Regions from separate parts of the Homo sapiens genome. Here all the other regions are linked to region 2. The links come from fine-mapping of genetic effects on gene expression. A gene starts in region 2. Each other region holds a variant in brackets. All regions are shown on one strand. Distances are between the middles of the regions. Region 1 has its middle 29 kb from the start of CITED4. Region 2 holds the start of CITED4 (Cbp/p300 interacting transactivator with Glu/Asp rich carboxy-terminal domain 4). Region 3 has its middle 50 kb from the start of CTPS1. Region 4 has its middle 37 kb from the start of CITED4.

The links. PIP is the estimated chance that this variant, and not a neighbour inherited with it, causes the effect.
Region 1: its variant is the best candidate, but not a certain one, in a credible set for the expression of CITED4 in whole blood (INTERVAL, PIP 0.70).
Region 3: its variant is the best candidate, but not a certain one, in a credible set for the expression of CITED4 in subcutaneous fat (FUSION, PIP 0.69).
Region 4: its variant is the best candidate, but not a certain one, in a credible set for the expression of CITED4 in esophagus mucosa (GTEx, PIP 0.52).

What each region holds. Positions count from the first base shown.
Region 1 is chr1:40,887,758-40,895,097 of GRCh38, reverse strand. No RefSeq gene overlaps it. Among named protein-coding and RNA genes, the nearest start is that of CITED4, 29 kb to the right of the region's middle. The variant T/C (reference allele first, on the strand shown) is at 3,990.
Region 2 is chr1:40,858,720-40,866,059 of GRCh38, reverse strand. CITED4 (Cbp/p300 interacting transactivator with Glu/Asp rich carboxy-terminal domain 4) reads left to right here and starts at 3,697. Exons shown (of 1, transcript NM_133467.3): 1 at 3,697-5,006. The coding sequence starts at 3,933. The coding sequence ends at 4,487. LOC124904157 (a long non-coding RNA gene) reads right to left here and starts at 3,676. Exons shown (of 3, transcript XR_007066025.1): 1 at 2,950-3,676; 2 at 1,665-1,892. RefSeq lists enhancers at 1-337, 338-887, 3,311-3,370 and silencers at 3,471-3,670, 3,831-3,910.
Region 3 is chr1:40,926,368-40,933,707 of GRCh38, reverse strand. No RefSeq gene overlaps it. Among named protein-coding and RNA genes, the nearest start is that of CTPS1, 50 kb to the left of the region's middle. The variant G/A (reference allele first, on the strand shown) is at 3,106.
Region 4 is chr1:40,895,675-40,903,014 of GRCh38, reverse strand. No RefSeq gene overlaps it. Among named protein-coding and RNA genes, the nearest start is that of CITED4, 37 kb to the right of the region's middle. RefSeq lists a silencer at 204-498 and an enhancer at 3,768-4,967. The variant T/C (reference allele first, on the strand shown) is at 3,712.

The DNA.
Region 1 (7,340 bases), 29 kb before region 2:
AAAACGGACTAACACAGAAAATTGGTACCAGGAGTGGGGTACTGCTGTAAAAATTCCTGAAAATATGGAAGTGACTTTGGAACTGGGTAATAGGCAGAGGTTGGAACAGTTTGGAGGGCTCAGAAGAAGACAGGAAGATGTGGGAAAGTTTGGAACTTCCTAGAGACTTGTTGAATGGTTTTGACAAAAATGCTGATAGTGATATGGACAACGAAGTCCAGGCTGAAGTGGTCTCACATAGAGATGAGGAACTTATTGGGAACTGGAGCAAAGGTCACTCTTGCTATGCTTTAGCAAAGACACTGGTGGCATTTTACCCCTGCCCTAGAGATACATGGAACTTTGAACTTGAGATAAATGATTTAGGATATCTAGTGGAAGAAATTTCTAAGCAGCAAAGCATTCAAGAGGTGGCTTGGGTGCTTCTAACAACATACAGTCATATGCAGTCACAAATAGATGGTCTGAAATTGGAACTTATGTTTAAAAGGGAAGCAGAGCAAAAGTTTGGGAAATCTGCAGCCTGACCAAGCAGTAGAAAAGAAAAACCCATTTCCTGGGGAGAAATTCAAGCTGGCTGGATAAATTTGCATAAGTAACAAGGAGCCAAATGTTACTCACCAAGACAGTAGGGAAAATGTCTCCAGGGCATTTCAGAGATCTTCCTCAGTCCCTCCCACCACAGGCCCAGAGGTCTAGAATAGAAAAATGGCTTCATGAGCCAGGTTCAGGGCCCCTGCTGCTCTATGCAGCCTTGGGACATGGCACCCTGCATCCCAGCCACTGGAGATCCAGCTGTGGCTAAAAGGGGCCAAGGTATAGCTAAGACCATGGCTTCAGAGGGTGCAACCTCCAAGCCTTGGTGACTTCCATGTGGTGTTGTGCCTGCAGGTGTGCAGAAGGCAGGAGTTTAGGAGACTTTGCCTAGATTTCAGAGGAGGTGTGGAAACATTTGGATGTCCAGGCAGAAGTCTGCTGCAGGGGCAAAGCCCTCATGGAGAACCTCTGCTAGGGCAGTATGGAGGGGAAATGTGGGATTGGAGCCCCAACACAGAGTCCCCACCAGGGCACTGCCTACTGGAGCTGTGAGAAGAAGGCCATTGTCTTCCAGACCCAAGAGTGGTAGATACACTGACAGCTTGCACCATGCACCTGAAAAAGCCTCAGGTCCTCAATGCCAGCCTTTAAAAGCAGTTGTGGAGGCTATACCCTGTAGAGCCACAGGGGTGGAGCTGCCCAAGGCCTTGGAAACCCACTTCTTGCATCAGCGTGCCCTTGATGTGACACATGGAGTCAAAGGAGATTATTTTAGAGCTTTAAGATTTAATGGCTGCCCTGTTGGGTTTTGGACTTGCATGGGGCCTGTGGCCCTTTTGTTTTGGTCAGTTTCTCCCATTTGGAACAGGAACATTTAACCAATGCCTGTACCACCATTGATTTTACAGGCTCATAGGCAGAAGGGACTTGCCTTGTCTCTGATGAGACATTAGACTTAGACTTTTGAGTTAATGTTGCAATGATTTAAGACTTCTGGGGACTGTTGGGAAGGCATAATTAGTTTTGAAATGTGAAAGGACATGAGATTTTGGAGGAGCCATGGGCCAAATGATCTTATTTGGCTCTGTGTGCCCACCCAAATCCCATCTGGAATTATAATTCCCATGTGTTAAAGAAGGGGCCTGGTGGGAGATGATTGGATCATGGGGGCAGGTTTCTCCCTTACTGTTTTCATGACAGTGAGTTAGTTCCCCTGAGATCTGATGGTTTTAAAGTGTGGCAGTTCCCTACCTCACTCTCTCTCTTGCCACCATGTTAAATGTGCCCTTGCTTCTCCTTTACTTTCTGCCATGATTGTTAAGTTTCCTGAGGCCTCCCCAGCCATGTGAAACTGTGAGTCAATTAAACCTCTTTTTTTTCTTTTCTTTTTCTTTTTCTTCTTCTTCTTATTCTTTTTTTTTTTTGTTGTTGTTGTTGTTGTTGTTGATGGAGTCTCACTCTGTCACCCAGGCTGGAGTGCAATGGCATGGTCTTGGCTTACTGCAACCTCTGCCTCCCAGGTTCAAGTGAGTCTCCTGCCTCAGCCCCCTGAGTAGCTGGGAATACAGGCACCTGCCACCACGCCTGGCTAATTTTTGTATTTTTAGTAGAGATGGGGTTTCACCATTTTGGCCAGGCTGGTCTCAAACTCCTGACCTCGTGATCTGCCCGCTTCAGCCTCCCAAAGTGCTGGGATTACAGGCATGAGCCACCACGCCTGGTCAACCTCTTTTCTTTATAAATTACCCAGTCTCGGGTAGTTCTTTATAGCAGTGTAAAAATCGGCTAATACAATATATTTGATAAAAGTCTTGTGTCCAGAATATAAAAAGAACTTCCAAATGCAATAATTAGAAAATAAGTAATGCAAATAGGGGCAAAATACTTGAACAGATACTTCACCAAAGAAGATATCTAGCGACAGGGCATGTTATCTTACACCTATAATCCCAGTGCTTTGGGAGGCTGAGGTGGGAGGATCACATGAGCCCAGGAGTTCAAGGTTACAGTAAGCTATGATCATACCACTGCACTTCAGCCTGGGCAACAGAGCAAGACTGTCTCTGAGCAAAAAAAAAAAGCGGGGGATAAACTAAACAGACCCTGAACCAGACTCTGTTCTCAAGGAGCACCCAGGTTGGTGGAGAAGACAGGTGGGTCATCAATCAGTTCATTATGATCCAGAAAACCAGGGAGAAACAGAAAGTGACAGGACACAGGGTGGAGAGGAAAAAAGCCCAGATCCACTCTCCAGCCCTGGACTCAGAATTAGTTAGCAAATAATATATGCTAGGTGCTGTACATAATCTGCGTCCTTTAAATCTTACCACAAACCCACATGTCAAGTAGCTACCTTTAGTCTCATTTTACAGATAAGGAAAACCGAGGCTCAGAGAAGCTAAGTAGTCCAGGGTCAGACCATTTGTTAAACCTCAGAATCTGGATTCCAGCTCGTCTGATTCCAAAGTCAACCATGCTCTCCTGCCTCCCATTATAAAGTGTTGCGCACTATAATTATATTTCTGAACCTTGACTGAGGGAGAAAGTTTATAATTTTCACTCTTTCCTTCCCAGGAGTGATTCTTTTTTAAGTAAAATAGAGACGAGGCCTCACTATGTTGCCCAGGCTGGTCTTGAACACCTGGGTGCAAGCCATCCTCCTGCCTTGGCCTCCCAAGGTGCTGGGATTACAGGTGTGAGCCACCATGCCCAGCCCCAAGTGTTATTATTCTTTAAATATATATATACTTTTAATTTATTATCAGCTTCAATAAAGCCCCCTAAATAAGCAATGCATCTCATCCTCCAGAAAGACTTCTCAGCGTCCCCAGTCCCAGTGCCCCGAGCTTACCCCAACACAGCACCAGCCCACAGTCAGCTACTAAGTGCCTGTTGACTGGTCTGATTTCCTGATGTGAGTTCCAAGGAGGCAAAATCCATGTCAGGGGCCAGTAGGTCCCAGTAAGTATAAGTATTTGAGGAAGGGAGGAAGAGAGAACAAACTGAAGGCAGGGAAGAATTTTTTTTTTTTTTTTTTTTTTGAGACAGAGTCTCACTCTGTTGTCCAGGCTGGAGTACAGTGGCACAATCTCAGCTCACTGCAATCTCAGCCTCCCAGGTTCAAGTGATTCTCCTGCCTCAGCCTCTCAAGTACCTGGGATTACAGGCACCCGCCACCATGCTGGGCTAATATGTGTGTGTGTGTGTGTGTGTGTGTGTGTGTGTGTGTGTGTGTGTGTATTTTTAGGAGAGACGGGGTTTCACCATGTTGGCCGGGCTGATCTTGAACTCCTGACCTCAAGTGATCCACCCACCTCAGCCTCCCAAAGTGCTGGGATAACAGGCATGAGCCACCATGCCCAGCCTTTAAAACCTATCATCATAAATACCATTGATTGAATATTTGCCCTCTGCCAGGCTCTAGCTCAACACTCCACTATATGCATGGTCTC[T/C]TTTAAACCTCTCAATCTGATGAGATGGATGATAATTTCATCCTCGATTTAGATTTGAGGACTGAAGTTCAGAGAGGGTGTCTCCTGCCTAGGATTGCGCATCCAGGAAATGTTTGCTCTTAACCATTGCACTGCAACTTTGGGGCCACTTCTTCATACCCTGGTAGGAGCAGAGGGATTAATTCATGATGTTGTTGCAAGACATTCTAAATTGTGCCATCCCAAGTCCCCTCAGGCTCTTTGGGAGAAAATACTCAATCTTTCACCACTTCTCAGCCCCATCTGTCCCTTCTTCAGGGTGACATCTGAAGGGGAATGGAGTTGGGGGCTTGGATAGTCTCATGGTTGGGGAAGGGGCCTCTGACCCAGTACTGCTTCCTCTTTCAAGTGTCTGCCTTCTGCAGTGTGGCTGAGGCACACGTCCCACCTGTCCTCTGGGCAGGTCCCCTGGCCTCTGCTGCCCACAACTATGTTCCTGGCCACAGTCTTCACACCCTCTCCTCTGACCCCAACCTTCTTCTTGCCTACCGTCTTCCTGAGCATTTCCATACACCTACCCCCACCACCTCCTGGGGTTCCCTCTTCACACCTCCATCCTGGAGGGCATGGGCTCTGCGAGGCTGCCCCTGGAACTGAGAACAACCCTTACATCAGGGCTATTCAAAGTGTGGTTGGTATTAGAGCTAGGCTCGGTGGCTCATGCCTGCAATCCCAGCATTTTGGGAGGCTGAGGCAGGGGGATCACTTGAACCTAGGAGTTTGAGACTAGCCTGGGCAACACAGCGAGACCCCGCCTCTACAAAAAAAAAAAAAAATTAGCCAGGTGTTGTGGCACATGCCTGTAGTCCTAGATACTCCAGAGGCTGAAGCAAGAGGCTTGCTTGAGCCCGGGAATTTGAGGTTGCAGTGAGCTGTGATCAGGCTACTGCACTCCAGTCTGAGTGACAGAGCTAGACCTTGCCTCTTAAATATATATATATATATATATATGTGGTTCATATCACCTAGGAAGATGTTAGAAATGCAAATTCTCCAGCCCCGCCCTGGAGCTACTGAATCAGAAACTCTGCAGGTGGGGCCCAGGCAGCCATCCCTGTTGAAACAAGCCCTCCAGATGATTCTGATGCACACTCAAATTGGAGAATCACTGCTTTGTCTCATACCTTCCCTCCCTCCAGGGCTCATAGTAAAAAGTCCAGGCCCCACCTTGGCCAGACTCCAGATCTTGACATTGATTTTATTTTTATTTTTAGAGACAAGAGTCTCACTCTGTAGCCCAGGCTGGAATGCAGTGATGCAATCTCGGCTCACTGCAACCTCTGCCTCCCGGGTTCAAGTGATTCTCCTGCCTCAGCCTCCCGAGTACCTGGGACTACAGGCGCACGCCACCACGCCCAGCTAATTTTTGTATTTTTAGTAGAGACGGGGTTTCACCATGTTAGCAAGACTGGTCTCAACTCCTGACCTCAGGTGATCCACCTACCTCAGCCTCCCAAAGTGCTGGAATTACAGGCGTGAGCCACTGCGCCCAGCCCAGGTCTTGACATTTAAAAGGAAGTTTTGGGTATCTCTCCCAACTGTGTAGGCCTTTACATTGAAATTCTGGATTCTGACACTGTTAGGTCTCCTCTACTCTTTCAAAAAATCCATTTAGAAAGGCAAAGCTAAGGATGAGCTGCTCATCTGCTGCTGAATCTGCCCCCGACTGGAAGCAACAGATGCCTCAGCAGCAAGGGTGGAGAAGGCCAGGAACATGGCTGGGAATTCAAAATTCATGGAATAATAGTTTTCTTAAAATCTCTTTTCCCTATATATACAATGTGTTTTCAAGTCTCAGCTCATTTAATCTTCATGTCAACCCCCGGAGGTCTCACAACATCAACCTCACCCCTTGGTGCAACATCAGCCCATGGACCTGGAGCCCATCTGTCAGGTCCTTGTTTTCTTTCATTCCCTCCTCTCATTCTCTGCTGTCACTGCCTATATTCTGAGTTCATTATCCAAATCCAACCACTTACTAGTGTGTGACTTTGTGCAAGTTTACTTAATCTCCTTGTGCCTTAGTTTCTGTAGCACACAGATTCCATAGTCAACATTCAGAAGAATTTACTGGGCACCTACAATACTTTAGGCACTGGGGATATGGCAGTGAAGCAAATAAAGAAAAATCTCTGTCCTTGTGGAGCTGACATTCTAGTGGGGTGAGGGGAGGGGAGGGAAGGGGAGAGGAGAAGAGAAAGATAATAAACCAGAAAGTAAAATATAATTTATAAAATGTTTCAGATGGTGACATGTAGTATAAACAATAAACAGGGAAGGGGATACAAGGTGCCTGGGTAGGGGAGGAAGGTGAGGTTTTGTTTTGTTTTTGAGACAGGCTCTCGCTCTGTTGGCTAGGCTGGAGTGCAGCAGCAGGATCATGGATCACTGCAGAGTCAACCTCCTGGGCTTAAGGGATCCTCCTGCCTCAGCCTCCAGAGTCACTGGGACTACAGGCACGCACCACCATGCCCAGCTAATTTTTTAATTTTTCGTATAGATGGGGGGGTCTCCTTATGTTTCTCAGGCTGGTCTCAAACTCCTAGCCTCAAGCAATCCTCCCACCTCGGCCTCCCAAAGTGCTGGCATTACAGGTGTGAGCCATTGCACCCAGCCAAGTTGTTATTTTTAATGGGGTGGTTAAGGAGGATCTCACTAGTAAGATGACATTTGAACAGAAATTTGAAGGAGAAAATGACACGGATATCTGGGAAGATGGCATTCCAGGTAGAAGGAATGGCAAGTGCAATAATTCTGAGGTTAATGGGAAAGCTGGCAAGGGGGTCAGTGTGGCTGGAGTTGGGGGGAAGCATGTGGGAAGAGGTCTGACAAGGGGCTGGGGAGACAAGGACTGGATCATGTTGGGATCTCTCTGCTATTATCAGGACTTTGACTCTAGGGAGCTGGGAAAAGGTTTGAGCAGGAGGAACCTGATCTAGCTTTGTATGTTAAGGTCACACCAGCTGCTGCGTGAAGAATAGGTCGAAGGGGCAGAGGCAGGGAGCCCATCAGTAATGGGGCCGCTGCAGTAATTCAGGTAGGAAACAGTGGGGACTTGGCCCACCTGGCAGCAGTCTGGAGGAGAGGGGTGAGAAGACCAGAAGGTATGTACCGAAGTTAGAACCGACAAGATTTGCAGATAGATCAGATATGGGAAGTAAGAAGTGGAGGGTGGACAGGGATGACTCCAACATTTTTAGCCTGAGCAACTGGAAAAGTGAAACTGCTATTGACTGAGATGGAGAAGACTGAGAGAAGCAGGTTTGGGGAGATTGTTTTCGGACTCGTTAAGGTTAAGATCCTATTAGACAT
Region 2 (7,340 bases):
ATTAAAACACAGATGCTGAATTCCAGCCCAGTTTCTGATTCAGAAACTGATTTGAGTCTGGTGTACGGTCCTAGAATGTGCATTTCTAATGGGGTCCCTGGTAAGGCTGACACTTCAGGACTTGTTGCTACAGTTTTAGAAGTGCTGCTCCAGCGTTCTCTCTGCTGATACGGCTTTTTTTTTTTTTCTTCTTTTAAAGATAGAGTCTTGCTTTGTTGCCCAGGCTGGAGTGCAGTGGCACCATCTCGGCTCACTGCAACCTCTGCCTCCTGGGTTCTGGCGATTCTCCTGCCTCAGCCTCCTGAGTAGCTGGGACTACAGGTGCGTGCCACCACACCCAGCTAATTTTTGTACTTTTTGTAGAGACGGGGTTTCACCATGTTGGCCAGGCTGATATCAAATTCCTGACCTCAAGTGACCTACCCACCTCAGCCTCCCAAAGTGCTGGGATTACAGGCGTAAGCCACCACGCCCAGCCCGCTTTTGCCCCAGATACCCCACTTAATACTACAACTTGCTCCCCTCCTCCCCTGCACCCCAACCTCCTTCCTACTCTATTTTTCCTTTTTTTTTTTTGTCTTTTCTCTTTTTTTTTTTTTTTTTTTGAGATGGAGTCTCACTCTGTCGCTGGGGCTGGAGTGCAGTGGCGCTATCTAGGCTCACTGCAACCTCCGCCTCCTGGGTTCAAGCAATTCTCCTGCCTCAGCCTCTTGAGTAGCTGAGATTACAGGCGTGTGCTACCACACCCAGCTAATTTTTGTATTTTTAGTCGAGACAGGGTTTCACCATGTTGGCCAGGCTGGTCTCAAACTCCTATATCAGGTGATCTGCCTACCTTGGCCTCCCAAAGTGCTGGGATTACAGGTGTGAGCCACCATGCCCGGCCTAAAGAACTTCTTAAACATTAGTTACACACACATTTTTTTTTAAATGGAAAATCATCTGGTGGTGCAATGGCTCCCAAATGCTGGTGACCTAAGACCAATGATGGCAGAATAATTTTTTGTTTGTTTTGTTTGTTTTTTTTTGTTTTTTGAGAGAGGGTCTCCCTACATCACCCGGGCTGGAGTGCAGTGGTGTGATCATAGCTCACTGTAGCCTCAACTTCCCAGGTTCAAGTGATCCTCCCACCTCAACCTCCCAAGTAGCAAGGACTACAAGTGCACACCACCATGCCAAGTTAATTTTTTATTTTTTCAGAAACAGGGGTCTCAAACTCCTGAGCTCAAGGGATCTACTTACCTCGGCCTCCCAAAGTGCTGGGATTACAAGCGTGAGCCACTCACCTGGCCTGCTTGTTGATTTTTTTGAGACAAGATCTCTGTCGCCCAGGCTGGAGTGCAGTGGTGCCATCATGGCTCACTGCAGCCTCCACCTCCAGGGCTCAGCTAATCCTCCCACCTGAGCCTCCTGGGTAGCTCAGACTACAGATACATGCCACTATGCCCAACTAATTATTTAACTTTTTGTAGAGACACGGTCTCACTATGTTTCCCAGGCTGGTCTTGAGCTCCTGGGCTCAAGCAATCCTCTCACTTTCATCTCCCAAATTGGGCAGATTTTCCGTCTTTATCAAAGCCCCCACTCACCCACCCCTTACCCCCCACATCTCCAGATAAGTGTGAGGCATGGCCAGGTTTAAGAATTTCTGTGAGAAGCCTTACCTGTAGAGAAAGATTCAGGAGAATAAATTCCAGGGTGTAGCTTTTTACACTTTGCAAAAATGTGACCACACCCATGGTCATTTATCACTACCCACAAGCTCTCAGGCTGACCAGGCAAGATCACCGTCTCCCTTTCACAGAGCAGAAAGCTGAGGCCCTGGGGAATCAAGTAATACTCCCCGCTCAACACTCAACAGTCACAGCTGGTTGGTGGTGGAGGTCACACACCTGTGGGTGGCAGAGATATGATTAGAACTTGGGCCTCTGGCTGGGCGCAGTGGCTCATGCCTGTAATCCTAGCACTTTGGAAGCCTGAGGTGAGAGGGTCACTTGAGGCCAGGGATTCGAGATAAGCCTGAGGCCCTCCTCACTCCCCCACGCCGCCCCTCCCCCCCGCTCCCTTCTCTATTTAAAAAAATAAGAAGAAAGAGGGAAGAAAAGACCTTGGGCCCCTGAATTCTCACTCTAGGGCTCTCCCCTCTACATCAACTGGATAAACCCAAGTTCCAGGAAGTCCCAAGGATGCCACAGGTCGGGGGAAGGTCAGAGAAGGGAGAGAGAGTGTCAAATGCGTGGAGGGTAAGGTTCTGGGAGGCTGTCTCCTGGCCACAGGAAAGACTCCAGTTGCCCTAAGGACTTGGAAAACACATGGCATTCACACGCTAACTCTGGCTGCCTGTGACCTCAGGACAGCCACTTTCTCTTTGTGTGCTTCTCCTTATCACTGAAATGGGGCTGATAATCCATGCCCTGCCCCCAACAAAATACTTGTAGAATGTAAAGCACTTTAAAAGTCCAAGTTATTATTGCTGTTATCAAGAGAAGGCCCTTTGGGACAGAACTTAAATAGCCTTGGCCGGGCGCGGTGGCTCACGCCTGTAATTCCAGCACTTTGGGAGGCCGAGGCGGGCGGATCACGAGGTCAGCAGATCGAGACCATCCTGGCTAACACGGTGAAACCCCGTCTCTACTAAAAATACAAAAAAAATTAGCCGGGCGTGGTAGCGGGCGCCTGTAGTCCCAGCTACTCGGGAGACTGAGGCAGGAGAATGGCGTGAACCCGGGAGGCGGAGCTTGCAGTGAGCCAAGACAGCGCCACTGCAGTCCAGCCTGGGCGAAAGAGCGAGACTCCGTCTCAAAAAAAAAAAAAAAAAGAACTTAAATAGCCTTTCTTTCATCTAAGGGACACTTTTGAGCATCTACCACATACCAGGCACTGTGCTAGGCACTGTGCACACATGCCCTCACTTACCCCTCACAAAGGGTCAGTGCTGCTGTTCTTTACCTTTTACAGATGAAGAAACTGAGGCTCAGCTGAGAGTTGCAATTCATTCCATCATTAGTTCATTCACTCAGCTTTTACTAAAAGCCTGCTCTGGGCCAGGCTCTGGGCCAAGTGCTGAGAAGAAGAAGATGAACAAGTCCTTCAGGAGACGTGCCCATAAATTAATAACAACTAAGTACATGCTTCAACAGACAAGGTGCAGTGGGAACTAGAGGGGGAGCAACAGGCTCTCCTGGGGGTTATGGGAATGGACAGCTGACCTCCTGCGGGGACCCTGCACCGCTAAGGTGCATGCGCCCTGTGTAGCTGTGCAGTCTCACTTTGATCAAGGCTTTGCTGTGTATTTCCAGGAAGCCTCTTCCGCCACTGAGCCTCGGTCTCTACCTGGAAAGTTAAAAGGTTGCGTAGGCCTGACATCCTGCAGCTCTTGGGGGGCCTAAAACTCTGGCCCTCCCACCCCACCTTCTGGTCAGTTCAAGCTCTACCCCAGCCAAGTCCGATTCCGAAGCCCTGAGGGCCAGACCGAATCCCTCCGAAAGTGCCAAATACCCCGCCCCAGGGCGGTGCTCAGAGCCTGGGGCGTGGCCGGAGTCCCAAGGGGCGGGGTTCCAGTGGGAGGGGCGGGGCCAAGACCTAGATGCAGGCGTGCGCGGCCCGCCCAGAAGCGTCTCGCCCAGCCAATGAGCGTCCGAGGGCGGGGAAGCCCCGCCTCTGGGTATAAGAATACGCCGAGCCCAGCTACGCGACGCGGAGGTTTCGGAGCACTACAGGTTGCGGGCCTTTGTGACCCCAGGCTGCGGCCGCAAGGTGCGCAGTAGTGGGCTGGGCCGGGGCACCAGTCGGGTTTGGTTTTGCTCCGCCCGGCCGAGCTGCAGGGACCGCACGGTGCCCGGGTCTCCCGCCGCAGAGCAGCCGCTGGCCCGGGCCGGGGGAGCCGGCGCTGACCACCGCGCGCTGTCCCCGCAGGCAGCCGGCCTGCCGCCATGGCCGACCACCTGATGCTCGCCGAGGGCTACCGCCTGGTGCAGAGGCCGCCGTCCGCCGCGGCCGCCCATGGCCCTCATGCGCTCCGGACTCTGCCGCCGTACGCGGGCCCGGGCCTGGACAGTGGGCTGAGGCCGCGGGGGGCTCCGCTGGGGCCGCCGCCGCCCCGCCAACCCGGGGCCCTGGCGTACGGGGCCTTCGGGCCGCCGTCCTCCTTCCAGCCCTTTCCGGCCGTGCCTCCGCCGGCCGCGGGCATCGCGCACCTGCAGCCTGTGGCGACGCCGTACCCCGGCCGCGCGGCCGCGCCCCCCAACGCTCCGGGAGGCCCCCCGGGCCCGCAGCCGGCGCCAAGCGCCGCAGCCCCGCCGCCGCCCGCGCACGCCCTGGGCGGCATGGACGCCGAACTCATCGACGAGGAGGCGCTGACGTCGCTGGAGCTGGAGCTCGGGCTGCACCGCGTGCGCGAGCTGCCCGAGCTCTTCCTGGGCCAGAGCGAGTTCGACTGCTTCTCGGACTTGGGGTCCGCGCCGCCCGCCGGCTCCGTGAGCTGCTGAGGGCGGCCGGCGCCCGCCCGGCGTGCCGGAGAGGAGAAAGGGCCCGACTGCCCGCCGGACCCTGCACCCAGCGACTGGGCCCCGCGCGCGCCCTCCGCGAGGGTGGAGGCGGCGGCTGTGTGCGCAGGGCCCGGCACCGGACTGGGACCCTGGCGTCCCTCCAGGCCTTGCCTCCTGCGGGAGGACAGTTTGGCTTCACTTCTCTGACCCCAGCCTCGGCCGTAAAGTGAAAGAGACCGGACCAGCTTCAGCTTTCGGACTCTGGTTCTTGGATCGTGTCCTCTCCCCCTCGCCGCCCTCTTCCCCCAATCTGAGCCATTGCAGGCCTCTGCCTGCTGCCCCCTCTCTCCTCGGGATCGGGTCCCCAGAGCCACCATCTCCTGAGCCTCCCACCCCGCTGCCTGGGCCCTGTGGTTGCTGGGCCTCCCACCTCAAGGAGGGGAAGGTTGTACAGCCCGAACCCGTGGAGCAATGCCCTGTCTGGCCTCCAAAACCAAAATAAAACTGGGTCACTTTACAGTCTTGCCGTTTTCATTTCCTTATCACCCCGAGCCCTGACTATATTTAGCTTCCAAAGTCCCAAGGTTGCTGAAGACACTGGATGGCATGGGGGCCACAGTCCCCAGCAGTGCCCAGGAGAGGAAACCGACAGTTTCTTTCAAAAATATCTCGTGGGTTGTGCAATTGTTATGTCACAACCTGGAGGGCAGAGGCTGCCACTGGGTGGTGGGGTAACCCACTGGGCTTCCCAGCTCCTAGGGTAGGGTGGGGGGAGCTTGGTGCTCTGCCAGAGAGGAGCTGGGTGGCACCGAGTTCAGACAGCCTAGCTTTGGACCCTGACTCTCTCCTTTGCCCAAGACACCATCCGTTCTGATTTTTGAGGCGGTTTCCCAGAGGGAGATGGTCCCCGTCTCCTCAGGTAGTTACGCTGCCTTTAGCACAGTGCCAAATACCTGGGCAGTTCTCAGTAAGTGACGGCAATTATTATTCTACAAATTGGTGCTGATTTTATTCCAGGCCCTGTGTCAACCTGGTGCATGTTCTCATGGAATCACAGCCCAGGTGGGAGGAGGTGGGTGATAGGCCTGAAAACAAACTAATCTTGCTGCAAGGAAGACTGTGATGAGTTCTAGAAAACAGTGCTAAGCAGCACTTTGGGAGGCCGAGACGGGCAGATCACGAGGTCAACAGATCGAGACCATCCTGGCTAATATGGTGAAACCCCGTCTCTACTAAAAATATAAAAATTAGCTGGGCATGGTGGTGCGCGCCTATAGTCCCAGCTACTCGGGAGGCTGAGGCAGGAGAATCGCTTGAACCCAGGAGGCAGAAGTTGCAGTGAGCCGAGATCATGCCACTGCACTCCAGCCTGGCAACAGAGCGAGACTCCTCAAGAAAAAAGAAAATAGTTCTGGGGGGGATTGTACAGCCAGGACAATAGACCGGCCAAGCGGGCACACCCAGAGAAGGGAGCAGTTTCAGCTATTAATAGTTGAGGTTGGGGTCAGTTCAGGCTTCAGGGAAGCGGTGACATTTGACGTGATGAACAGAGCCTTGAGTGATGAATATGTTTTTAGGAGAGGAGCCTGTTTCAAGGCAGGAAGGCACACAAGTACGATGAATGTTTGGGGAAGGTGTGGGGTGTCTAGAAGGTACAAGAAAGGTCGAATGGCTTTACGACAACTTCGTGAGGCAAGCACAGTCCTCATTCTACACATGAGGGTTGTGGAGTGTGCCCAGGCCTGGCAGGATTTGGCCTCAGAGTCCTGAGCACCAGCGTGAGTTCCTGGCCACCCTCTGCAGTTCACTCTGGAAAAATCCCTAGGTGCTTCTGAGATGTGGGAGAAAAGCTGGGAAAGAGATTGAAGTCAGGGAGGAGGCCGGGTCAGAGACGCTGCGGTGGTGGGGCATTCTCTAGGAGAGCATGGATTCCAGGGACACTGGAGGGGAACACCAGGCTGAGACCTTCTGTCCCCAGCAGCTGGGCTTGACTCTCAAGCCAGGCTTTTTTGTGGATGTGACCCTCCACCAACCTGTGAGTTCTCCCAGGACCTACTGTGCTCTGAAGCTACCAGGATGGAATGTGGCTGGTGACAGGAGGTGTTTGGCAAATGAATAAAGGTCTCCCTAAGATCATGGGATTTCTGGGACAGGATGAAGAGAGAAAGGAAGAGAGCCTTCTGGGAAGGGACTGGCCTGAGCTCTGGGCTCAGAGGGGCTGGCATTTGCCCACCCCACCGCCCCGCTGCTTTGCCCAGAACCCCAGGCCAGAGACAGAAACCACAGGGCTGAATTAGTACAGGAGGGTTTGACCCTGAGCTGAACACTTCCCTGATTCTCTTCTCTCTCCCCTCAGTTTCCACACCAGTAAAATGGGGCTAATATCCCTGCCCTGCTACATTACAAAGCAATAACCCTCACAATTAGTAAGGAACAAATTCAGAGATGGGTTGATAAGCAGTTGGCAAACTCTGAAGTGCTCTCCATATGGAAGGGATTACAACGAAAACCCCAACACCTGCCTCTTTCCAGAGTTAAGGGGGAAGCGGAGGAGAGAGTCCAGCTGCTGAGCTCTTCCCTCCTGCATCCCTCCAAAAGGGACTGCTGACAAGTTGGACAGCAGACAGATGGACAGGGGAGAAGATGAGGCTGGGGCATCCCACAGCCTGGATCCCCAAATCCCTGATACTGTTTGGAGGCTTCTGACCCTACCATCCCCTACCAGGGGAAGAGAGAGTACGTGTAGAGACAGTGAGGAGAGCAATGGGCTTGTCGTCTGACAGCCTCAGGGTCCAGTTCAGAAGCAACTCTTACTAGCTGCCTGACCTCAAGGAAGCCACCACACCTCCCGCA
Region 3 (7,340 bases), 68 kb before region 2:
GTCTGCCCCCCTCTGCAAATTCATCTTCTACCTCTGCCTTCTCATTCCCTGCCCTTTTGCCACTCTGGCCTTCTCTGAGTTCTTCCAAAATGCCAAATTATTTCCTGGCTCAGTATCTTTGCACACTCTGTTCCCTCTGCATGGAATGCCCTTCCATCCCCTCTTGGCCTGGCAACTGATGCTTATCCTCAGTCTTAGTTTAAATGGCATATCCTCCAAGAAGCTTTCCTTGAACCGTGGGACAAGCCTGGGCCATCTGTTTTATTCTCCCATTGTGCACTGTACTTTTCCTTCTCAACATTTATCAAAAACATAAATAGGAAAGCATAAATAGGGCCAGGCACAGTGACTGATGCCTGCAATCCTAGCACTTGGGGAGGCCTTGGCAGGAGGATTACTTGAAGCCAGGAGTTCGAGACCAGCCTGAGCAACACAGTAAGACTCAGTCACTACCCAAATTTTGAAAAACTTAGCCAGGCATGATGGCTCAAACCTGTAGTCACAGATACTTGGGAGGCTGAGGCAGGAGAATGGCTTGAGCCCAGGAGATTGAAGCTGCAGCGAGCTATGATTGCACCATTGCACTCCAGCCTGGGCTACAAAGCCAGACCTTGTCTCGAATAAATAAATAAATAAATAAATAGTTACTAGTATAATTGGTCATTCAACGTCTGTCTTTCCTATTAAACTAAACTCTGTGAGGCAAAGCTGTCTATTACAATAACAATCGCTGAACACATCTATAGCTCTTCCTATGTGTTTGGGTCTGTTCTAAGCACTTTTTATGTATCATCTTACTGAATCCTCACAGTAACCCTTCAAGACAAATACTTTTTCTTTCCCTGTTTCATGAGTGAGGAGACTGAAGCACAAAGAGGTCAAGTAACTTGTTCAGGGATGCATAGCTGGTAAGTAGTGGAACCAGGATTCAGAAGCAAGCCGTGTCTCCCAGAATCCTAGCTTTTCCTACTTCCCTTATTGCCTTCCAGGTTTGTTGTGTTTCCCATTATGCCCCCAACATCCAGCACAGGACACATGATAGGTGTTCAATAAATATGGTGGAATGTATGTCTAAGCATGCATTTACTGAGAACTTACTAAGTGCAAAGCACTGTGGAGAAACCAAAAATATGGACCTTACCCTTAGCGACCTTTAACTAAAATCACGAGGAAAACAGATTTTTATTTATTGTTTATTTTTTACCTGACTAAGGAATACAGAAAAGGTTCTTAGAGGAAATGTTTTTTGGTGGTCCCCTGGGAACAGATAGATAGGACTCAAATGGATCTCGGGTGGGGGCAGGGGAGCAAGGGAGGCCAGATGCTGGGGAGGCGAGAGTGAGGGCTGGCAGCCCTGCAGGAATGCTCACTGGGAGGACTGGAAGAGCAAGGGTGGGGCAGAGGACACAGACTGAGGGAGCCCAGGGGAGGGAGTCAGCTCTACCAACTGGAGGAGGGGTCGGCCAGTCTGGGCCTCCTGTGATGAGTAAACAGGCGTTGGGGAGGAAGGGCTTTGTGGAAAGAAAGACCCACCTGTGCAGAGCATGCAGGCAGGAAATTGCAAAGGGTGTTCAGGAAACAAACGCATGTCCTGTGGGATATTAATGGGATTCTACAGTCAAACTCACTTGGGAAATTCTGCACTGAACAAGGTTAAACAAATGTCTTTCCTGCAATGTTCCTCAGAACCCTTAATATGTTAATGTGCATTGGGTCTACAAGGCAGGGGTATATGAGTGACATTTCCAAGAAAGGCTTATTAACTTGACAGCACATTAGTTAGAAAAGGGTGGCAAAAAAGCTGGCGGGTCAAACAGCTTGGGGCGGGTGAGGAGGGTCTGGGATGCCAAGCCAGGGAATATTCACATTAGCTTAGAGAGCACTGGAAGAATAAAAGATTTTTTAAGCAGGGTGGTGACGTAAGCCCGGCTGAGAGCTAGCAAGCTGCCTCCAAAGTCAGTGTGGGGATAGATGTGAGGAAGGAAAGAGATTAACGTGTTGATATAGTTTGGATCTGTGTCCCCACCCAAATCTCACATTCAATGTAATCCCCAGTTTTGGAAGTGGAGCCTGGTGGGAGGTGATTAGATCATGGGGGTAGGTTTCTCATGAATGGTTTAGCACCATTCCCTTGGTGCTGTCCTCTCAATAGTGAGTGAATTCTCCCGAGGTCTGGTCATTTTAAAGTGTGTGGCATCTCCCCCTGACCTCTTCCTCCTGCTTCGGTCATGTGACATGCCTGCTCCCCCTTTGCCTTCCGCCATAATTGTAAGTTTCCTGAGGCCTCCCCAGAAGCCGAGCAAATGCCAGCATCATGCTTACTGTACAACTTACAGAACTGTGAGCCAATTAAACCTCTTTTCTTTGTAAATTACCCGGTCTCGGGTACTTCTTTATAGCAATGCAAGAATGCATAATACATGTGTATTGTTGACTTACTCTGTTCAGCCACTGTGCTAGCACTTCAAGTATATAAGTGCATTTAATCTTCACAACTCTGCAAGGGTAAATGCTATTGTCCCTACTTTAAAAGTTGAGAAAACTGGCCAGGTGTGATGGCTCATGCCTGTAATCCCAACACTTTGGGAGGCCGAGGTGGGCAGATCACAGGAGCTCAGGAGTTCGAGACCAGCCTGGCCAACATGGTGAAACCCCACCTCTACTAAAATTACAAAAATTAGCCGGGTGTGGTGGTGGGGACCTGTAATCCCAGCTACTCAGGAGGCTGAGGCCGGAGAAGTGAACCTGGGAGGTGGAAGCTGCAGTGAGCTGAGATTGCGTCACTACACTCCAGCCTCAGCAACAGACCGAGACTCCGTCTCAAAAAAAACAAAAAAAAATTTGAGAAAACTGAGGCTCTGAGAGGCTGTGGGGCCACCTGCCCACCACTTATTGAAATATGTGTGTTAATTCACTGTGCCTCAGCATCTGTCTACTTGTGGAAATGAGCCAGCTCCTGAATCTAGGTCAGCCAGGGAGCAAAAGTGTGGGCCCGGCTGGGGAAGGAGCTCTGGGTGTGGGAAGAAGAGCTGGCTTCTGAGACCCTGAGCACTGTGGCCCTCTCCAGGACCTAAACCCTGGAACTAGCTGGGGCCTGAGGGAGCC[G/A]GGCATGTAGAGCTCCCCAGAGAGGCTGGAGAATTCACCCATGGATGACACAGGCATCCTCACCCCAACTCCCCATGAGAACAGAATCGGAGGCCCCATGGGCTGGCAGAAGGGACCTTGGCCTTGAAGAACACTTTCTTTGGTTCTCTCCCCTGCAATGCACTGCCTGAGAACTGACGGATGGCCATGGTTCCAGCCAGCTCTGCCACCAACCTGCCAGGTGATTACCTCATGTGTCAACAACATGATCCCTTTTGTTCCTCCCGGCTCTGAATGCCCTCTTCAGAACTCCTGTTCACACAGGTGCCATGTTGTGGAATCCTGGCTCTGGTCCTTCTTTCAGAAATTTTGGGAACTGGTTGTCATGTATCTGACAGATCAGCCTCATCTCATCTCACCTCTCACAACAACTCCATGGTGCCTCTGTTCAATGAGTATTTACCAACTCCCCACCCTTTGCCAAGTGCTGTCCTGAGAGCTGTGCTCACAGAGGTCCATCTTATGAAGCAGATATTGTTATGAACCCCATTTTTCTGATATGTTTGTTTATTTTAGAGACGAGGGGCCTCGCTATCTTGTCCAGGCGCGTCTCAAACTCCTGGCCTCAAGCCATCCTGCTCTCCAGCCTCCCAAGTAGCTGGAATTACAGGTATGAGCCATTGTGCCCAGCTACCCAGTTTTCCAGTATGGAACCTTGCCCAAAGTCTTGCCCTGGGTAAGACTTGAAATCAGGTCCGTCTACACTAACATCCCAGCTCCTGACCACCCAGTGTCACTGCCACCCATGTAAGCCCGGGCTCGGGACTGGAGCCCATGCCTGCTGGAGCAGGGATGGTGAGAGAGAAGGGGGCATGTTATGACCTCACTGTGCCCTGGGGTCATTCTTGGTTCTGCTACCTCCTAGCTGGGTCACATGGGGCAAATCATCTCACCTCCCTAAGTCTCAGTTTTCTCATCTGTGAAATAGCCCTACAGTATTTACCCCAAATATTTGTTGGGAGGATAAAATGACATCTTGAATATCAAGCCTCTTAGTACAGTCAATATTAGTTTCTCCATTTAAAAAATTTAATTTTCCCTAAAATAACCTGCCCCTTCTCATGCTCATTTCCAAAGGCTTGCAATGAGTGATCCAGAAACAAATGAATAAATAAAGGGATTTCCCAAATTCCCTGAACTCTGGTGTTGGAGTTGTGCAGCCTCATGTATCTTTATATGGCCTGCATGACATCAATGATGACTCACATTTCTTGATCATGTAATATGCTCTAGAAACTTTCCTGGGTGTTTTACACACACAGCTGTTACAGACCAGAGCTAGTTGTCTTTTGTTGTTGTTGTTGTTTTGAGACAGGGTCTTGCTCTGTCACCCAGGCTGGAGTGCAGTGGTGCCATCTTGGCTCACTGCAGCCTCGACTTCCTGGGCTCAAGTGATCCTCCCATTTCAGCCTCCTGAGTAGCTGGGACCACAGGCGCATGCCACCATGTCTGGCTAATTTTTTAATTTTTTGTAGAGATGGGGGTCTCACTATGTTGCCCAGGCTGGTCTCAAACTCCTAGGCTCAAGCAATCCTCCCAACTCAGCCTCCCAAAGAGCTGGGATTATAGCCGTGAGCCACTGAGCCCAACCAGAGCCAGGATTTGAACCCACAAAGTCTGGCTCCATGGCCTGTGCTCTTAACCACTCTGCTACTTTGTTCGGGAGGTCCAATGTAAACTTCTGTGTATTAAATTGTGAGATCCCAGAGGTCACAAACCATGCCTTATCTGGGATCCAGCATAGGCCTGGCCCTGAATGAGTTTCAGAAGATTCTTTCATTCATTCACTCACATTCACTCAACCAGTATCTCTGGAGGACCTTTGCAGGTCAGACTCTGTTCTAGGAGCTGGGGATACAGCAAGGAAGAAGGTAGAAAAGACCCCTGTTCCCATGGCAACTACTTCCAGTAGAATCCAGGGTTGCATGGCATTGAGTGACTGGGTGGCTGCTCTTATTGGGTGGTCAGGATGGCCCCTCCAAGGAAGGGATGTTTAGCTAGGACCTCAGTGATAACAGGGAACCAGCCATCTGAAAATCAGAGGGAAGAGCATCGAGATAGAGGGAACAGCAAGTGCAAAGACCCTGGGGTGAGAAAAAACTGGGCATATTTGAGAAACAGAAAGAAGCCCATTGTGGAGTGTTAGTTGGGGAAGGGAGACAGCAAGGCAGGGGCCACATCATGGGGACTTCATGAGCCAGAGGAAGGAGTTTTATTATGTTGTTCAAAGTGCAATAGGAAGCCGTTGGAAGGTTTTAAACAGGAAAATGACATAATCTGATTTTTAAAAAATTAATAGACTTTATTTTTAGAGTAGTTTCAGGTTTATAGAAAAATTGAGCGGAAAGTCCAGAGTTCCCTCTCACCCTCTACTGTGCATACATGCACACATATCACAATTTCCCTTAGTATTAGCATCCTCCATTAGAGGGGTACATTTGTTACAGTTGATGACCCAATACATTATTATTAACTAAAGTCCACAGTTTACATTAGAATTTGCTCTGTATTGAACATGAGTTTTGAATAATGTATGACCTGTGTCTACTATTATAGTAGCATACAGATTAGTCACACTGTCCTAAAAACCCCCTGTTTTCCACTGATTCCTCCCTCCTCCCAAGGCCTTGGCAACTACTTTTTTTTTTTTTTTTTTTTTTTTTGAGTTGAGTCTTCCTCTGTGGCCCAGGCTGAAGTGCAGTGGTGCGATCTCAGCTCACTGCAACCTCTGCTTCCCGGGTCCAAGCGATTGTCGTGCCTCAGCCTCTCAAGTAGCTAGGATTACAGACACGTGCCACCATGCTTGGCTAATTTTTGTATTTTTGGTAGAGATGAGGTTTCACTATGTTGGCCAGGCTGGTCTCGAACTCCTGACCTCAGGTGATCTGCCTGCCTCAGCCTCCAAAAGTGCTAGGATTACAGGTATGAGCCACCGCACCTGGCCACAACCACTGATTGTTATACTGTCTCCATAGTTTTTGCCTTTTCCGAAATATCATAGATTTGGAATAACACAGTATGTAGCCTTTTCAGACTGGCTTCCTCCACTTAATCTGATTTTTTTTTTTTTTTTTTTTGAGACAGCATCTTACTCTATTGCCCAGGCTGGAGTGCAGTGATGCAATCATGGCTCACTGAAGCCTCAACCACCCGGCCTCAAGCAGTCCTCCCACCTCAGCCTTCTGAGTAGCTGGGACTACAGGCACATGCCACCATGCCTGGCTAATTTTTAAATATTTTGTAGAGATGGGGTCTCCCTAAGTTACCTAGGCCAGTCTTGAACTCCTGGGCTCAAACAACCCTGCCTCCATCTCCCAAAGTGCTGGGAGCACTTTGGGAGTGAGCCACCGCACCCAGCTTGATCTGATTTTTTAAAAGATCAAATTGGCTGTATCGTAGGAACAGATTGGAAGGGGACAAAAATAACAAAAGGAAGACCAGTTAGGAGACGAAGCAGTCATCCAGAGGCTCGATGAAGTGGTGGGCCAAGCTGGTGGGGAGAAGTGTGTGGACCCCAGGTGCACAGTGGAGACCCAACTTTTGGGAGCTGCTCATTGAGTGAGTGCAGGGGAAGGTCAAGGATAGGAATGATTGATGATTACATCGCCAGGGTTAAACCAGGCCTGCACAGAGTGGGGTTTTAAAGTGTTCATAGATATTGCTGTGGTTTTTAATCCCCTTAAATACTCTTGTTGTTCTCTTAGAAATTGAAGAATCAGTTCCAGAGAGATCTCCTGGAGGGCCTAGGATCACAGAGCAAAGCAGAAACCACAGCTGTCTCGGAGGACGAAACTCCAGCTCTTCACCCAGAGATAGTCGTGGGCTGGTGGCTTCAGGGCCCACTAGGGCCTTTGTTATGAGTTTTCTCTTCCCAGCGGTCCTTTTATTGCATAATCAATAAACCACTGACAGAAATAAAAGGCTTCCAGATATATACGCTGCTGATTCCCTGCCTGGAAAACCTTCCCCTCTGCCCTCCTTAAAACCTCATGGCTTCTTATTGCACATTGCACCCGGGGGGGGGATATCCACTTAGAATTGAATCTCAGTGAAACTGCTTGTTAACTTACCCTGACCTCTGAGTTAGTTCAGCTTATTTTGGTCTCAAGTAACTACCTTAAGGCAAAAACAAACAAACAAACAAACAAACCTGGGAGGGAGTGGTGGGATGGATATCTTGGGAGCTATGGAGGCAC
Region 4 (7,340 bases), 37 kb before region 2:
GCAAGTGCCTGGGATTCAGGTCTCATCTGCTTAGGGTGAATGCCCAGTGGAAGGAGTAGAAGACCAATGAACTAAGGGGCGTATGCCTCCTTCCACGGGAGGTGGAATGGCTGTGAGGCCTATTGAGGGAGAGAGAGAAGCAACGTTCTCTCTGGCCCAGCCCCACGGCTCCCCATTCCCTCCACGTACCAGTTCTGAAGCTATCAGCCCTTGTCCCCAAACCTATCCCTGTATGTGCCGTCTGGTGACGCTGGGGCTGGCATTGGGGCCCACCCTATTTCTGTTCCGTCAGCTGTTTCCAGGATAGGCTCTGCCAATAGGGGACCCTGGAGGGTGCAAGGCGGTCCCAGGAAGAAAGGTCTCAGCATACCGTTCCATCCTGTCACCATCGCCTCAGCGATGGCCCTTCATTCACCCTGGCAGAGGAAATTGGTTCCAGCAGCAAGCGGTTCTAGTTTCTAGGTTTTCCCCACCTTCCCAGAACCAGCCCCACTGTGGCCCCTCGGAGACACCAGCACCAGTTACAGCCATGCCCTCCTCCGGGTCTGGGTCCCAGCTGCTAGGTCCTGACACCTAACTTCCTCCCTTGTTCTCCCTTCCCTAGGGGTGGTGTCTGTTTCCTGCAGTTACTACCTCCGCTCTCATGCCGCCGGCTTTTCCATCTGTCAATTAATGTTTAGTCAGTTCTTTTAAAAACATTTAAAATTTTTTGTTTTTCTTTGTCTCCATCAAAACTCCTGTTGAAATAGTCAATTCTTTCTATTCAATTCCCTCTCTTAAAGCAACCAGTCTGCTTTCTGTGTTCCTGATGAGACTGACTCATACAAACGTCTGACTCCCCTGAGGCCTTTGTGGGTCATGGGTAAGCATCAGAAGTTTCCAGTAGGACACATCTAAGCCCTGAGGAACCTGTGAGAGGCTTGGGGTCAGGATGAGGAGGGCTCAGAGCACACAGCTCTGGCAACAGACACCGTGGCTGGAGGCTTCAGGAGTGACGTATGCCCAGGCCCAAAGCCAGAGAGGACCAGTGACACCAGCAGAGAAGCAATGGGGAGAAGCTGGCACCAGACACCACAGAGGGCAAGGCAGCCCATAGGGCCATCAAGCCCAGAAGCCTAGGCCCAAGCCCATAGGTGTTAGGTAAGGCTCCTCTGCCACCCGATGTGATCCTTGGACAGAAGGAGAAGGCACCACCGAGAGACGAGCAACCCTAACAGCAAGTTCAGATCCTGAGCTGACGATTTTTCCAAACAAGACTAAATATTTTTGTCTAAATTTTTTGGTATTGACATAATTTCAGATTTATAGAAAAGTTGGAAGAGTAAGGCAAAGAATTCTGAATCCCTTCATCCAAATTCCCTAAATGTTAACATTTTACTATATCTGCTATATTCTTCTGTGTTTGTGTGCACATGTGCATGTGTATTTTTTTCTGAAATGTTTAAAAGTTGTCCACATAGTGCCCTTTTGTTCCTAAATACTTTAGTGTGTATTTCCTAAAAACATGGACGTAACCCTACATATCCACAGTATAGTTATCAAACTTGGAGAATTGGCCGGGCATGTTGGCTCACACCTCTATAATCCCAGCACCTTGGGAGGCTGAGGCAGGAGGATCACTTGAGGCCAGGAACTGGAGACCAGCCTGGCCAACATAGTGAGACTCCCTATCTTAAAAAAATTTTTTAGGCCGGGCGTGGTAGCTCACGCCTGTAATCCCAGCACTTTGGGAGGCTGAGGCAGGCGGATCACCTGAGGTCAGGAGTTCGAGACCAGCCTGACCAACGAGGTGAAACTCTGTCTCTACTAAAACACAAAAATTAGCTGGGCATGGTGGTGGGCGCCTGTAATCCCAGCTGCTTGGGAGGCTGAGGCCGGAGAATCACCTGAACCTGGGAGACGGAGGTTGCAGTGAGCCGAGGTTGCACCATTGCACTCCAGCCTGGGCAACAAGAGCAAAACTCCGTCTCAAAAAAAATTTTTTTTTAACACGAAAATTAAAAATTGGAGAATTAACATTATACAAGACTATTATCTAACCTGTAGACTTATTTCAGATTTTACCAATTGTCCCCAAATGTCCTTTAAAGCAAAAGAAAATGCACGCTCTCCCACTGCATTTAGTTGTCATGAAAAAATACATTTTAACCCAGAAATAAATCAGGGGAAGAGGAGTTGTGATCGCGTTGGGTTCAGTTGTGGAAGGAAAGTTTTATTTCTGCAAATCTGAATCATACAGTATAAATGCTGACCCTGCTATGTTAGCAATTAATAATAGCGTTGATGATAATGGTAATAATAGTTCATGACCCTTTCTGTCCTGGATCTTTATCTGTTTGAGATACAGTTGTAGTCATTTGGCATCAGCCAGTTGCTCCATGAAAAAAAGGTTTATTGAGACAATGTAGCATACGGCAAACACAGAAGTTGCAGGGTTAGACAGACCTGGGTTGAAAACTGGCTTTGCCTTGCTGGTGGTATGACCTTGGACATGGTTTGAACCTTACTGAGCCTCCGCTTCCTTGCCTTTAACATTGAGAAGGGGTAGGATCTGGAGTCCAACAAATCTAGGTTCACATCTTTGCTCTGTGCTTGCTAGTTCTGGGCCCTTGGGCAAGTGCTTTCATCAGGTTGCATTTTGGTCTGCTCATCTGTAAAATGGGCACCTTGCTGGGATATTGGGAACAGAGATGATTTTTGTATGAAATCCACCTGGTTCATAGTAGTTCTTAGTGAATGGCTATTTTACTTTATTTTTTGATAGGATCTAATTCTGTCTCTCAGGCTGCAGTGCAGTGGTACAATCATGGCGCACTGTAGCCTCGACCACTGGAGCCCAGGTGATCCTTCTGCCTCAGCCTACTGGGTAGCTGGGACTACAGCCACGTGCCATCACGCCCAGCTAATTTTTGTATTTTTTGTAGAGTCAGGTTTCACCATGTTGCCCAGGCTGGTCTTGAACTCCTGGGCTCAAGTGATCCACCCACCTCGGCCTCCCAAAATGCTGGAATTACAGGCATGAGCAACCACACCTGGCCATTAAATGTTAATTGTATCAGCCCTTCCGAGTTGGGGCATGTGATTCTTCCTCTGTGAGCCTCAATTTCTTCATCTGTAAAACAGAGCCAGTAGTACCCATCTTTTGGTGTGAAGAATGAGAAGTGAAGGTGGAAGGGCTTGGTGCTCTGAAAAGCCTGGTGCCTTGTGGCCCTGGCAGAGTATGTGATTGGTGGGGCAGTGACAAAAACAGAAAGTGCTTTGGAATCCTGGGGCCTGCCAGGAATGTGGGCAAACCTGTTCCATCCACTGCTGCCCCAAGCTCCAGACTCTCCCATCTTCTCCCCCAATCAGGTTCCCTCCCCCATTCTTTGGGTGCGTCTTGGCTTGTCCTGCCTGTCTTCTTCTAGGAAGCCACTCAGTCCTGCCTCAAAGAAGGGAGGAAGGATGTCACCTTGTCCTGGGCAAGTTATTGGGCAAGACCAGGCAGCTCCAGTGCTAATTTAATGCTGGGAAGAGAGTCGGGGAACCTGCAGCTCTGGCCAGCTTTCCCCCAAGGAATCCCAGCCCTACCAGCCTCCTCCCTGTCTCTGGCACATACCAGTTCACAGCCAGATCAGTAGAGCAGAGGTGTACAATGGGGAGGCTCTGGCCTGAGAAGAGGAAGCCCCTGAGAGCATTCAAAGGGTCAAGAGAGGACTAAGGCAAGACCTC[T/C]TGGGTAAGAGGGCCCCAGAAAGAGAGCCAACCCTGGGACCAGCCAAGGGAGGCAAGAGGTGGGTGTGTTTCCAGAGTGGACAGATGTCCATTCGACCTCCTGCCTTGATGGTGGAGTCGTACAATGGGCCAGGCCCTGTGCTGAGCTCTTGACATGATACACATTATACTTATCTTATGGAACCCTCATATGTCCTAGGATCCCAGGGCCTATCCCCCTTGGATAAAGGAGGAAACTGAGGCCCGGAGAGTGACGCTTCCAGTTCCAGTTGGTGTCTGCTCAGGGGTTGGAATCTGAATTGGCTCAACTCCAAAATCCATGTTCAGCAGGTTTTCTGTAGGATGGAGAAGGATCAGGAGCTAGGCCCAGGGCTGTCCCTAACTTCAAGGGCTAACATTTTTCTGGGTGTAACCCTGTGACCTTGCCAAGTTACTTATGTATTCCTTCCCCTGCACTGACACATTCTAGGGATCCCGGAGTGGGCAGGGACTGTCCACATCATCTAGCCCTTCTTAAACATATCTGTAATTACAGGCCCTTAGGTGCCTTCTCCCCACCCAACCTGACTGTGGGTTCTTCCAGGCACTGAATCCAATTACTCTATTTATCTGCCCACATACCAAGCAAATGCCAGGAATGCATTTGGTGTTTATTGAATGAAGGCACGAATGAGGTGGAGTTAAACCTCCTTGCTTCTCAGAGGAAGCACTAAGACCCAGCGAAGGAGGGAAGGGGCTTGCCCAAGGTCACTGTCCAACTTCCACCCAGGGTACTTTCCCTTCTATGACTCAGTCCTGGCATGGGCCCAGGGTTTTGCCAAGAAGGGCTGCCTTTGGGGAGCCCCGTGGGAAACCAGAGACCCCATCTGGCCCTTAAAGCTCTTCCTCTCTTTAAGATTAGGAAAAAGGTCATAGCAACCCAAAGGAGGCGGAGCAACTGGAGTTCAAGACATTCACCTTAAAAGGTACACTCAGTTGCCCCTGCGTTTGGACTTTGCTGACCTGGAAAAAAGAGAACTGCATAGTAATCCATTTGTGTTCCATCTCGTCAAAAGTATAGCACCTGTGGGGGCTGAGCTGGTGTTTCGTGGGATCATGATGATTCTCTGACTTGAAGTGCAAGGACTGGGAAAAAATTCCATGTCTGTAAGAAAATGAATCCTAAAGATTCCAGTGTTGTACCTTATCCATTGATATATTCATTCATTCATCCATTCACCCACTCATTCATCAATGTAGTATTTCCCAAATGTCACTCATTCCTGTACTACTTTCATCATTTTTTATAATCTGTAAGATATTTTTGCTTTGTGTTTTTCTTTATTGGACTATTTTACTTAAATAAATTTAGCCTCAGCCTAAGCAACAGTACAGTCTGTTTAAATATAGCTATTACAATAACAAAATGTTTGTCCATGTATCACCTAAAACCCTCTTCTGTGCCACCTTGGATGTATCTGCATTCACTCATCCTCTCCTCTCTGCACCTCAGGTCCCACAAGTGAGCAGTGGAGGGCATTCGGATGCAATGATCTTTCAGCCCTAACATTCTGGAAGTCTGATTCAAAGAGTCACACCCAGCAAAGGAAAACACAGAGACTAGACGGAATCAGTGAAGAGGTGGCTGGTCAAAAGCAGCACATGTATCGTGTTTTCAAAGCTCAGCAGTGACTCAGGAAGGCAAGACAGGAAGTCCCTTGGGAATGGTCTGTAAACCAGGGCGAGGGACTAAGAAAAACAGGTAGATAAGTCCCCAGGAGCCTTAAACAGCCCCCAAAGCATGAGCTACACATATGTCACTAGACTCTGTCAGAACCTTTCAGAGCTGGCCAGGCATGGTGGCTCACGCCTGTGATCCCAGCACTTTGGGAAGCTGAGGTGGGAGGATAGGTTGAACCCAGGAATTCGAGACCAGCCTGGGCAACATAGCGAGACCTTGTCTCTACCAAAAATAAAATAAATAAATAATTTAAAAAGAGGCCAGGAGTGGTGGCTCACACCTGTAATCTCAGCACTTTGGGAGGCCCAGGCGGGCGGATCACCTGAGGTCAGGAGTTACAGACCAGCCTGGCCAACGTGGCGAAACCTCATTTCTACTAAAAATACAAAAATTAGTCAGGCATGGTGGCAGGCGTCTGTAATCCCAGCTACTCAGGAGGCTGAGGTGGGAGAATTGCTTGAACCTGGGAAGCAGAGGTTGCAGTGAGCCGAGATGGCGCCGCTGCACAGAGCAAGACCCCGTCTCAAAAAAAAAAAAAAAAGTAATAAAGTAAAAAATAAAAAGAACCTTCCAGAGTTTCTAGAGGCACTAAGACACTAAAATGCCAGAGAAAGCCATTTTACCCCTGAAGAAGCTCAGCACTGGGAAATGACTGGGCAGAAACGTGGCCCACCTGGCCTGCTCCTAGTCCCCAGGACCGGCCAAACTGAAGTAGGTTTCTTCAGTTTTCTTCAGGTTTCTTCAGTAGGTACCTGCTCAGCCCACAAGCCCAGGGAGTCTCCTGGGTCCTTGGTTCTTCTATGCAGCCCAGCCTCCTTGTCCAGTTAACTGGGGCAGAAGCAGGTACCTGACTCACAGGCAACCACTCTAGAGGCCAGGCTGGGCCAGTCAGATTCCTGAACTTTGGAATTAGGACAAGGAGAGGCCAGACTGTTTGCCACAGGTCCTGGTTGGGTAAGGAAATGTAGATTTGCCAAGGAGGGCTGCTTGGGACACGTGTCTGAAAGACAGAAAGGAAATTGGTGTTTTGAGAGAAGTGGACGGAAAGGTGGGCATTCCCCCAACACCAGTCCTGAGTGTAAGGTCCTTGTGCGACTTGCCTGCCCTTGAGATCTGTGAGATAGTTCTAACGCCTTATATTGAATTACATTTTTTGCTTAAACTAGCTGGAGTGGGCTTCTATTTCATGTAAACAAATCAATCACTGATATAGTGAAGCCCGTCCTTCAAAGTTTCCCAAATTAGACTTGGCAAGTCGGCATAATGGTAATGATGCTAATGACACCCCTGACATTTGATTGGTGTTTTATAATTTAAAAGTCCCTAACATAGGGGTCATCACTCCAGCCTGGGATGACTTGCCCCAGACCTACTCATGCTCCAGACTCTTGGGGAACGGCATCACTCCTAAAACTCTCAATGTCTTCAACAATAAAGTGGGGTTAATAAAGCCTGTTTTAAGTGGTTGTTGCAAGGTTTGAATGTGGTATGCAAAGTGTTTAGCACTTTGGCACACAGTAAAAGTGCTCAGTATGTGGTAGCCATAATAGTGATTTATTATATAAAGTACCTAGATGAGGCTAGACACATAATCACTAATCAAAAATTATGTAATATAAAGTGCTTACTGATCAGTGCAGAGGGTTTGACTTGACCAGACTTAACAGGATCACTTGTAAAACAAAGGAGTTTTAGTTGATCACAAGCTTTATGTGAGTCAACAGAAACCATCACAAAGCTAATGTGATCTCAGGCCATATTAAGAAAAGTTTTATCTCTAGAAGATGGGAGATGTTAGTCATGTCCACCTCAGTCCCTATCAGACAACACCTAGTGGTGGGGAGGGGGCGGGCTCTAGGAAGAGGACCTGTGACCTCACAACTTTCTAAGAAAAATAAAATTTCTTTCT